3 linked regions of the Homo sapiens genome follow. The gene in region 3 interacts genetically with the main gene of each other region. Each region holds a gene or a part of one and is shown on either strand. Other genes may lie near its edges. The genes, in order: TULP2, NDUFC1 and PBRM1.

Region 1 (3,652 bases), on a different chromosome or scaffold from region 3:
TCTCTCTCACTAATCCTCCTCAGCACAGACCCTTTACGGGTGTCGGGCTGGGGGACCGTCAGGTCTTTCCCTTCCCACGAGGCCATATCTCAGGCTGTCTCAGTCGGGGAAATCCTGGACAATGCCCAGGCTTCCTTGGGCAGGGGTCCCTGCAGCCTTCCACAGTGTGTTATGTTTCTGGTTAATAGAGAATGGAGAATGGCAATGACTTTCACAAAGCATACTGCCTGCAAAACCATTTTTACCAAAGCACATCCTGCCCAGCCCTAAATCCCTTAAAACTTGAGTCAATATAACACATGTTTCTGTGAGCACAGGGTTGGGACAAGAGTTGCAGATTAACAGCATCTCAAAGCAGAACAGTTTTTCTTTTTTTTTTTGGGGGGGGGACGGAGTCTTGCTCTGTCACCCAGGCTGGAGTGCAGTGGCGCGATCTCAGCTCACTGCAAGCTCTGCCTCCCGGGTTCACGCCGTTTTACTGCCTCAGCCTCCCGAATAGCTGGGACTACAGGCGCCCACCACCGCAACCGGCTAATTTTTTGTATTTTCAGTAAACGTGGGGTTTCACTGTGGTCTCGATCTCCTGACCTCGTGATCCGCCCGCCTCGGCCTCCCAAAGTGCTGGGATTACAGGCGTGAGCCACCGCGCCCAGCCAGCAGAACAGTTTTTCTTAGTACAGATCAAAATGGAGTTTCTTATGTCTTCCTTTTTCTACATAGACAAAGTAACGATCTGATCTCTCTTTCTTTTCCCCACACAGCCTAGGTGACAGAGTGAGACTCCGTCTCAAAAAAAAAAAAAATCATTAGGTGAATGAGGTGAATGAAGACACACGGTGGCTCACACCCGTAATCCCAGCACTTTGGGAAGCCAAGGTGAGAGGATCACTTGAGCCCAGGAGTTCAAGACCAGCCTAGGCAACATAGTGACACACCATCTCAAAGCAAAAGAGGCCAGGTGCATTAGCTCACGCCTGTAATCCCAGCACTTTGGGAGGCCGAGGCAGGCAGATCACAAGTTCAGGAGTTTGAGACCAGCTGTGCCAACATGGTGAAACCCTGTCTCTACTAAAAAACACAAAAAATTAGCCGAGCATGGTGGCACGCGCCTGTAACCCCAGCTACTCGGGAGGCTGAGGCAGGAGAATCGCTTGAACCCAGAAGGCAGAGGTTGCAGTGAGCTGAGATCGCGCCATTGCATTCCAGCCTGGGAGACAGAGCAAGACTCTGCCTCAAGAAAAAAAAAAAAAAAGGAATTGAAGAAAGAAGCCACATACAAAAGACCACATATGTATACGATTCCATTTGTGTGAAATGTACAGAATAGCCAAATCTAAGAAGACAGTGGAGGTTGGTGGTTGCCAAGGGCTGGGGTAAATGGAAAAGGGGTGACTGCTAATTGATGCACTATTTCTTTCTTTCTTTTTTTTTTCCTTGAGACAAAGTCTCGCTCTTTCACCCTGGCTGGAATGCAGTAGCCTGATCTCAGTTTACTGCAACCTCTGTCTCCTGGGTTCAAGCAATTCTTCCACCTCAGCCTCCCCAGCAGCTAGGATTACAGGTGCATGCCACCACGCCCAGCTAATTTTTGTATTTTTAGTAGAGACTGGGTTTCACCATGTTGGCCAGACTGGTCTTGAACTCCTGACCTCAGGTGATCCACCCACCTTTGCCTCCCAAAGTGCTGGGATTACAGGCGTGAGCCACCGCGCCCAGCCATGATGCAGGATCTCTATCTGGGGTGATACAAATGTTCTAAAATTGATTGTGGTGACGGTTGCAGAATTATATAAATATAGTTAGCTTCTCGTATCCTACAGGCTCCACATCCCCACTGCTGACCCAAAATATTCAGGAAAGAAATTGAAAAACAACAAGATGACAATAAATAACAGAACCAATTTTTTTTTTCTTTGAGACAGAGTATTGCTCTGTCACCCAGGCTGGAGTACAGTGGCATGATCTCGGCTCACTGCAACCTCGGCCTCCTGGGTTCAAGTGACTCTCTTGCCTTGGCCTCCGGAGTATCTGGGATTACAAGCCTGCACCCCCTTGCCTGGCTAATTTTTGTATTTTTAGTAGAGACATGGTTTCGTCACGTTGGCCAGGCTCGTCTCAAATTCCTGGACTGAAGTGACCAACCAGCCTCAGCCTCCCAAAGTGCTGGAATTACAGGCACTTTATTTTTAAAAATTTTTTTAAATAACATATAACAGCTATTTACGGGCCAGGCATGATGGTTTATGCCTGTAATCCCAGCACTTTGGGAGGCTGAGGTGGGTGGATCATGAGGTCAGGAGTTTAAGACCAGTCCGGCCAGCATGGTGAAACCCCATCTTTACTAAAAATACAAAAATTAGCTGGGCGTGGTGATGCGCACCTGTAGTCCCAGCTACTTGGGAGGCTGAGGCAGGAGAATAGCTTGAACCTAGGAGGCGGAGGTTGCAGTGAGCCAAGATCACGCCACTGCACTCCAGCCTAGGCGACAGAGTGAGACTCCCTCCCAACAACAACAGCAACAAATATTTACATTGCATTTATACTGTATTAGGTATTATAAGTTATCTAGAGATGACTTACAGTATATGGGGGGATGTTCATAGTTTATATGCAAATTTTACACCATTTTATATAAGGGACTTTGGCGTCTGCGGATCTTGGTATCTGTGGGGTTCCTGGAACACATCACCTGCAGATACCGAGGGGCGACCGTGTACTGGAAACCATGGAATTGTGAACTTTAAATGGGTGACTTGTATGGTTTGTGAATTATACTTCAGTGAAGCTGCTGCCTAAGAAAGGGGAAGATTTGCTGCATGAACCAGGAGATCCCAGGTTTCACCCCAATGTCCCCTAAATTACCAGGTCGTTGGTGGGCTTGCCAACCCTTGCGTCGGATTCTCGGAGACTGTTTAAAAGGTGGGGGAGAGACGGAACCATTCTCCACGGAGACTTCCTCCAATTCTGCATCGGAATTGTCTGGGAGCCAGGATAAGAAAGGGGACTGGAGACCGAGATTCCTGAACACTGAGGAAGGAAGGAGGGGAGAGTTGGATTTCTGGATGCTGCAGGAGGAGGCGGCTCAGGACCTGAACTCCTTGGTGTGAGGAAGGAGTGGGTGCGGTCCTGAGCTCCTGAGTATTTTGGACAGATGGATTGAGGCACCAGACTCCTGGGTTTTAGTGGGGACGGAGTTCTGGGGTCTAGGAGGTCGGTGGACTCGCAAATACCTGCTTCTGTCCGCGGTGTCGGGAGGCCGCGCTCGCCCCTGCCGTCTCCACCACAGCTCACGGTGCCCAGGGCACTGTGGATGCCAGAGGGCAGATGTGCCTCTGACACTTTCTTCCGGAGGAAAGGGTTCCCAAGGCCTGGGAGAAGGTTCAGCGAGCCCATGAAAACGATCTACAAATTCCGGTCCTCAACCAAAATCCACCCCGTCACTGGGCTCCCAAATATCACCCCCGCCAGGCGCCGTGGCTCACGCCTGTAATCCCAGCACTTTGGGAGGCCGAGGCAGGCGGATCACCTGAGGTCGGGAGTTCGAGACCAGCCTGACCAACATGGAGAAACACCGTCTCTACTAAAAACACAAAATTAGCCGGGCTTGGTGGCGCATGCCTGTAATCACAGCTACTCGGGAGGCTGAGGCAGG
Region 2 (3,652 bases), on a different chromosome or scaffold from region 3:
AGGGCTCTGCAGCAGAGCTCCGTGGGGGCGTCAACGTGAATTCCAGCACGGCAAGGTTCTCTAGCACCCCGGCCTCAGCCTTCTGTCTATACAGTGGAATTAGGAAGAAAATAATTAAAAGAAAAAAGAGTTTACCTATTCTCTGTCCTCTGGGGGTTTTTCACCCCATCTCTACGGCTATTCATCAAGAGGTTTATTAAAATTTTCCTACATGAGCCAGAAGAAAGAAAAGTGTCGTGCTGAATAATAACTAGCATTTGGATTGAATTCTGTGGTCCAGGCACGGTGCATTAATGTATCATATGGTTTACATTCATTGTCTTATTTCATCTTCAAAACGAGCACATATCATGCCGTGGTTATAAGCCTCAATTTACAGATGAAGCTTAAAGAAGACAGCTACTCATCCAAGGTGACATATTATATTTTACAGTTGAAAAGATCTCTTAACACTTACCACTTACACTCACGATCATACTGAAGCCTCACAAACCTGTGAAGTAGAATTAGTGCCTTAGGTAGGCTTAAGATCACACAGATGGCAGAGGTGGGATACAGTTTGAGGTCTTCTGACTCCAGATCTAGTGATCCTCATTAGCCCACCTAACAGACTTGGACCACCCTAGACCATAAGCTGTAGAATCAGCGTTCAAAGCCATTCTGCTCACCACTTTTTAGCTCTATGATTTCTAGGCAAATTACTTAACCTCTCTATACCTAAGTTTTACATCTGTAACATAAAACCTATAGGGTTGCTGAGAAGCTTAAACAAGTGTCTGGTAGTAGTAAACAATTTATTTGGTTTTGCCTATTAAAGACATCGTTCTGAGGAATAGGTTTTATCTTGCACAGTTGAGCCAGATCTTTGTACATTCAATTCAGTTCAATCTGATGTCTAAAGACCAGTAAAAATATTTATAGGTAACAGACAATACATTTTGACCCTTTAAAACTAATCCTTTAAACTTTATGTCATTAATTTTAAAACCAAAATAAATGTTAGCAAATCTCCTATATTCTCTTTAGCAATGTTATTTTAAGATCTTTTTTAACCAAAAATTATTGACCAAAAAGTCAATTAATTGCACTGTGTTTTCTGGCTCATTTTAACATGCAAATGGTGGCTAAATGGATTGCTAAATTGTGAGTCACTTTAGTTTGTAACCTAGTTTGAGCCTCCTGGACTCATGCTCAAGTAAGTAAACTACCCAATGAATGTGCTGAGCCAGTTGTTGGTTCGCCACTTATTGTCCACTCAGCAACCTGTCAGTTGTATATCCTTTCTACACCATCCGTTGGAAGCTTGTCCTGATGAAGCTTTTGCTAGTATCCAACAAGTTGAAACAGATGCTATCTTTAGTCAGAGTATTCAGAACCAGTAAGCAAATTACTAATTTCAGTACTGCTATTGAGAAAGACTGCTTTGTTCTTTTTCAGAGCTTTGGCCCTTGTATCCTTTTACTAGTGTGTATTTTGGGAAAGTGATGAAGTATAAGCACATTTTTCTCACCATATTAGAGCTGATGGGAACTGTACACTTGGAGTACCCAGCTGTATGTGAAACTGCATCTAGAAAAGAATCCTGATTAAGTAATTCCAGCTAGGAACTAATATCTATAATATTTTGTTAGAAGTTGCTTCATAACATTCATGTAAGCATCTTCAGAATTTGAACACTAAAATCTTATTTATGATCCAGGTGAAAAGAGAGAGGATTTGAGTTAGCAGCTAGAAAAGCAAAGTTTCAGTCCAAGATTTTTCCACTGGGAAAAAATCACATCTCCCAAGGAAGGTAAAAAAAGAGCAAGAATTGAAAAACAGTATAAAATGCAAAAAACAAAACAAAAAATCCCTATTTTTATTGATACAGCATGCATGAGAATACTATGAATCAAACTTAGGACTTGGGCCAGTCACAGTGGCTCAGGCCTCTAATCCTAGCACTTTGTGAGAACAAGGTAAATGGATTGCCTGAGTCCAGGAGGTCAAGACTGGCCTGTGCAACATAGGTAGATAACTATCTCTACAAAATGATTTTTTAAAAAATTAGCTGGGTGTGGTGGTGCATGTCTGTGGTTCCAGCTACTCGGGAGGCTGAGGTTGGAAGATCGCTTGGACCTGGGAGGTGAGGCTACAGTAAGCCAAGACTCTGCCACTGTACTCCAGCCTCGGTGACACAGTGAGACCCTGTCACAAAAACAAAACAAAAGAAAAAAACCAACAACCTCCCACCTCCCCACACACCAAGATGTATCTATAAGTTTTTATTTTTTAAGACTCAGCAGCTGGGCGCCCTGGCTCACGCCTGTAATCCCAGCACTTTGGGAGGCCGAGGCGGGCGGATCACCTGAGGTCGGGAGTTCAAGACCAGCCTGACCAACATGGAGAAACCCTGTCTCTACTAAAAATACAAAATTAGCCGGGCATGGTGGTGCATGCCTGTAATTCCAGCTACTCGGGAGGCTGAGGCAGGAAAATCGCTTGAACCCAGGAGGCAGAGTTGCGGTGAGCTGAGATCGCACCATTGCACTCTAGCCTGGGCGACAAGAGCGAAACTCTGTCTCAAAAAAAAAAAAAAAAAAAAAGATTCAGCAGCAGGCCGGGCGTTGGGGCTCACATCTATAATCCCAGCACTTTGGGAGGCTGCGGTGGGTGGATTGCTTAAGCCCAGGAGTTCAAGAGTAGCCTGGGCAACATTGAGAAATCCTGTCTATACACACACACAAAAAAAACCCAGAAGCAATAGCAAATTGTTAACATTTGTTAAATCTAGGTGACAAATACATGAATTTCTTTTATATTCTTTTTTTTTTTTTGGAACAAGGTCTCAGCTCTGTTGCCCAGGCCGGAGAGCAGAGGTGTCATCACAGCTCACTGCAGTCTCGACCTCTGGGGCCGAAGGAATCTTCCCACCCAAGCCCACAAAGTAGCTGGGACTACAGGCTCACAGCACCACACCTGGCAAATTTTAAAATTTTTTTGTAGAGACAGGGTCTCACTATGTTGCCCAGGTTGGTCTCAAACTTCTGGGCTCAAGCGATCTTCCTGCCTCAGCCTCCCAGTGTCGGGATTATAGGTATGAGGCATTATGCCTGGCCTATGTTTTTTTTTTTGAGATGTAGTCTCACTCTGTTGTCCAGGCTGGAGTGCAGTGGTGCGATCTTGGCTCACTGCAACCTCCACCTCCCAGGTTCAAGCGATTGTCTTGCCTCAGCCTCCTGGATAGCTGGGGTTACAGGCACGCACCACCACACCCGGCTAATTTTTGTATTTTTAGTAGAGACGGGGTTTCACCATGTTGGTCAGGCTGGTCTTGAACTCCTGACCTTGTGATCCGCCCGCCTCAGCCTCCCAAAGTGCTGGGATTACAGGTGTGAGCCACCAAGCCCAGCCTTTTTTTTTTTTTTAAATAAGATCCAAGTACTTAATAAGATGTAACAGTCTCAATAGAGAACATCTTACATATATGGAGAAATTTCACTCAACATATCCCTTTTGTAGAATTAAAGTTTGCAAGGTAAATGATTTTATTTCTTTCTTTTTGGTTAATATTTTTTAGAGTTAGCATTTGGAACATAGTGACATGCAAGCACATGGGGTAAGATGAATTAACTATCATCAGCAGCAGCAGCGGCAGCATATAGCCTTGGAT
Region 3 (3,652 bases):
ATAAATTATCAAGTTCTTCTGATTGTCTCACAAATGTATTTTTATAGTTGATTTCCTCAAATCAGACTCTCATTAAGTTCTATATAATAAATTTGATTATTATACTCTTTTTTTTTTTTTTTTTGAGACGGATTCTCACTCTGTTGCCCAGGCTGGAGTGCAGTGGCACGATCTCGGCTCACTACAGACTCCGTCTCCTGGGTTCCCCCAATTCTTCTGCCTCAGCCTGCAGGGTAGCTGTAACTACAGGGACACGCCACCATGCCTAGCTAATTTTTTTGTATTTTTAATAGAGACAGGGCTTCACCATGTTGGCCAGACTGGTCTCGATCTCCTGACCTCAAGTGATCCGTCCGCCTCCGCCTCCCAAAGTGCTAGGATTACAGGCATGAGCCACCGCACCCAGCAGATTGTTATACTCTTAAACCCATGATCTAGAGCAGTCTCCTTCCTTTTCTTTCCACATGCCAGTAACTCATTGAAGAAATCAGGTCACTTTCCTGTACAGTGTCCCAAGTTCTAGGTTAGACAGGCTTGCTTCCTTGTGATATCTGTAACTTTTTTCTTTATTTCCCTTATTTCTTATAAATAGAAGTTAACTTTGAAGGTGCGATTAGATTAAGTTTCACCTTGGTGGTGATACTTTATAAGGGGTTTGCTGCCCTTATGTTGTATCATGTCTTGAGGCAGTGTCTGGTTAAAGTAGAATCCAGATAAAGTCCACATACTGCAACTGATTGATACCTCTTTTTTTTTTTTTTTTTTTTTTTTGAGACGGAATCTCGCTCTGTTGCCTAGGCTGGAGTCAGTGGCACGATCTCGGCTCACTGCAACCTCCGCCTCCTGGGTTCAAGTGATTGTCCTGCCTCAGCCTCCCAAGTAGCTGGGACTACAGGTGTGCACCACCACGCCCGGCTGATTTTTGTGTATTTTTAGTAGAGGCAGGGTTTCACCATATTGGCCAGGCTGGTCTTGAACTCCTAACCTCGTGATCTGCCCGCCTCGGCCTCCCAAAGTGCTGGGATTAAAGGTGTGAGCCACCATGCCCAGCCCGATACTTCTTTTAATCTGTAAACTCCCCTCCAGCTCTCTCTTTTTCCACCCCTTACCATTTATCTGTTGAAGAAATTAGATTTGTGCTGTAGTTTCCCATAGTCTGGGTTTTGCTGATTGCATCCATATGTTGTGGGGTTTTTTGTGTGTTTTGTGTTTTGTTTTGTTTTGTGGAGACAGGGTCTTACTCTGTCACCCAGGCTGGAGTGTAGTGGCACATTTTTGGCTCATTGCCACCTCCACCTCCCTTCTGAAGCAGTCCTTCCACTTTAGCCTCTCGGGTAGCTGGGACTACAGGTACACGCCACCACGTCCAGCTCATTTTTTTGTATTTTTAGTAGAGACAGGGTTTTGCTATGTTGCCAGGCTGGTCTTGAACTCCTGGGCTCAAGTGATCTGCCCACCTTGGCCTCCCATAGTACTAGTATTGCAGGCATGAGCCACAGCTCCTGGCCCACTATGTTGTACTTTCATGTGTTCCTCTGTCCTTTGTATTTCCTATAAATTGGTAGTTGGAGCCAGAGGCTTGATCAGATTGAGGTCTGATCCCCTGTTCTCTCCCTTAGGCAGAAAAACCGACTTCATAGGTAATATATGGTCTTCCATCAGGTACATGTGAAATCTATTTATGGCTTTCTGTTAACAGGTGTTGTTGCATACTTCATTAATTATTAATTCATGAAAGGGATGTAAAATTGTGATAGTTTTTAATTTTATTCCTTATTAGCTATAGAGAAACTTTGCCTTATCTAATATTTGATTAGCCAGTGGTACAGTGTTTTTTTTGTGTGTGTCTTGCTTTTTGAAAGGATAAAGGCTTGATTTTTGTTTTATTTTGTTTTCACCTTTACCAGTTTTCAAAATATGTATTGGTTTACTAACATCCTTCAATATTTACCCATTTTGTTGTTTGTTTGTACGTATTATTAAGAACTACCAGACTTAAACATATGGCTGAGTTGTAATTGAAGTTATTGTCCTTATTGATACTCAGGCTGGTTCAGGCTCGTTCCTGTATTCTTTTTGTTTTGTTTTTTTGAGACAGAGTCTCGCTCTGTCGCCCAGGCTAGAGTGTAATGGCTTGATCTCAGCTCACTGCAACCTCTACCTCCTGGGTTCAAGCAATTATCCTGCCTCAGCCTCCCGAGTAACTGGGATTACAGGCGCCACCACCACACTCGGCTAATTTTTTGTATTTTTAATGGACACAGGGTTTCGCCATGTTGGCCAGGTTGATCTTGAACTCCTGACCTCAGGTGATCCACCCACCTTGGCCTCCCAAAGTGTTGGGATTACAGGCATGAGCCACCACGCCCAGCCGGTTCCTATATTCTATTGACATGAAGTCATGGTAAGAAGTCATTGATAGATTCTTTACTGTCTAGTGTTTGAAGATATACCAGACTGGGAATCAGCCATTTACCAAGGAGCCCTACCTTTTTCATGTTTCTGCTGAAAGGTGAGGGCTCCTCAACATTACTATTTGGAATTAGTATTTTAAAACTCTAATGTGGGCTATACTGCTACTGAGGTAGTCATTGTTTGTACGATTTTCAGTGGACAGAGCTAGGAAATTTGTGTGTTTGTTTGTATGTTTATATTTAAAGATAAATTACATCATAAGTTCATAGTGATACTTTCAATTGAGATTAAAGGCCTCAAGGTAATTATTAATGTCCTACGTTTTAACATCCGTTATCTCTTTTTATCCCATGATGAAAATCTCAGTTCTCCAGGATACCAGAGGTGATAGAATGTCACATAGCTACTCATTTGCTTTATTCCTTCTTATTCACAGCTTTCTCAACCTTACAGTAGTCTCCCATCAAAAATATAATTACTGAAAACAGTTAAAAAAAATTTTTAGTACTTTTTTGTCTGCAGGTTATATTTCACTATAGACATGCTAATTGCTAGATTTTACAAATTACTTGGAATCGTCCCTTGTGGTTATGCTACCATCTGTATACAAATTTAGGTTCATTTATTTTATTCATTTAACATTAAATATCTCTCTTTAGGTAGGAAGAGTGGCATTTCTCCTAAAAAATCAAAATACATGACTCCAATGCAGCAGAAACTAAATGAGGTCTATGAAGCTGTAAAGAACTATACTGATAAGAGGGGTCGCCGCCTCAGTGCCATATTTCTGAGGCTTCCCTCTAGATCTGAGTTGCCTGACTACTATCTGACTATTAAAAAGCCCATGGACATGGAAAAAATTCGAAGTCACATGATGGCCAACAAGTACCAAGATATTGACTCTATGGTTGAGGACTTTGTCATGATGTTTAATAATGCCTGTACATACAATGAGCCGGAGTCTTTGATCTACAAAGATGCTCTTGTTCTACACAAAGTCCTGCTTGAAACACGCAGAGACCTGGAGGGAGATGAGGACTCTCATGTCCCAAATGTGACTTTGCTGATTCAAGAGCTTATCCACAATCTTTTTGTGTCAGTCATGAGTCATCAGGATGATGAGGGAAGATGCTACAGCGATTCTTTAGCAGAAATTCCTGCTGTGGATCCCAACTTTCCTAACAAACCACCCCTTACATTTGACATAATTAGGAAGAATGTTGAAAATAATCGCTAC

The links.
Region 1: changes in PBRM1 (region 3) and TULP2 together harm fitness more than expected from each alone (negative genetic interaction), as found in Homo sapiens cells (one large-scale study listed by BioGRID).
Region 2: changes in PBRM1 (region 3) and NDUFC1 together harm fitness more than expected from each alone (negative genetic interaction), as found in Homo sapiens cells (one large-scale study listed by BioGRID).

What each region holds. Positions count from the first base shown.
Region 1 is NC_000019.10:48,892,136-48,895,787, forward strand, and holds part of TULP2 (tubby-related protein 2), read right to left. Parts: intron 3,369-3,652; coding exon 3,231-3,368; intron 3,028-3,230; coding exon 2,863-3,027; intron 1-2,862.
Region 2 is NC_000004.12:139,295,875-139,299,526, forward strand, and holds part of NDUFC1 (NADH dehydrogenase [ubiquinone] 1 subunit C1, mitochondrial precursor), read right to left. Parts: intron 1,570-3,652; 5' UTR 1,511-1,569; intron 494-1,510; exon of another isoform or gene 458-493; intron 87-457; 5' UTR 1-86. UniProt on the Homo sapiens protein: Accessory subunit of the mitochondrial membrane respiratory chain NADH dehydrogenase (Complex I), that is believed not to be involved in catalysis. Complex I functions in the transfer of electrons from NADH to the respiratory chain.
Region 3 is NC_000003.12:52,609,378-52,613,029, reverse strand, and holds part of PBRM1 (protein polybromo-1), read left to right. Parts: intron 1-2,438; exon of another isoform or gene 2,439-2,496; coding exon of another isoform or gene 2,497-2,512; intron 2,513-3,074; coding exon 3,075-3,652. UniProt on the Homo sapiens protein: Involved in transcriptional activation and repression of select genes by chromatin remodeling (alteration of DNA-nucleosome topology). Required for the stability of the SWI/SNF chromatin remodeling complex SWI/SNF-B (PBAF).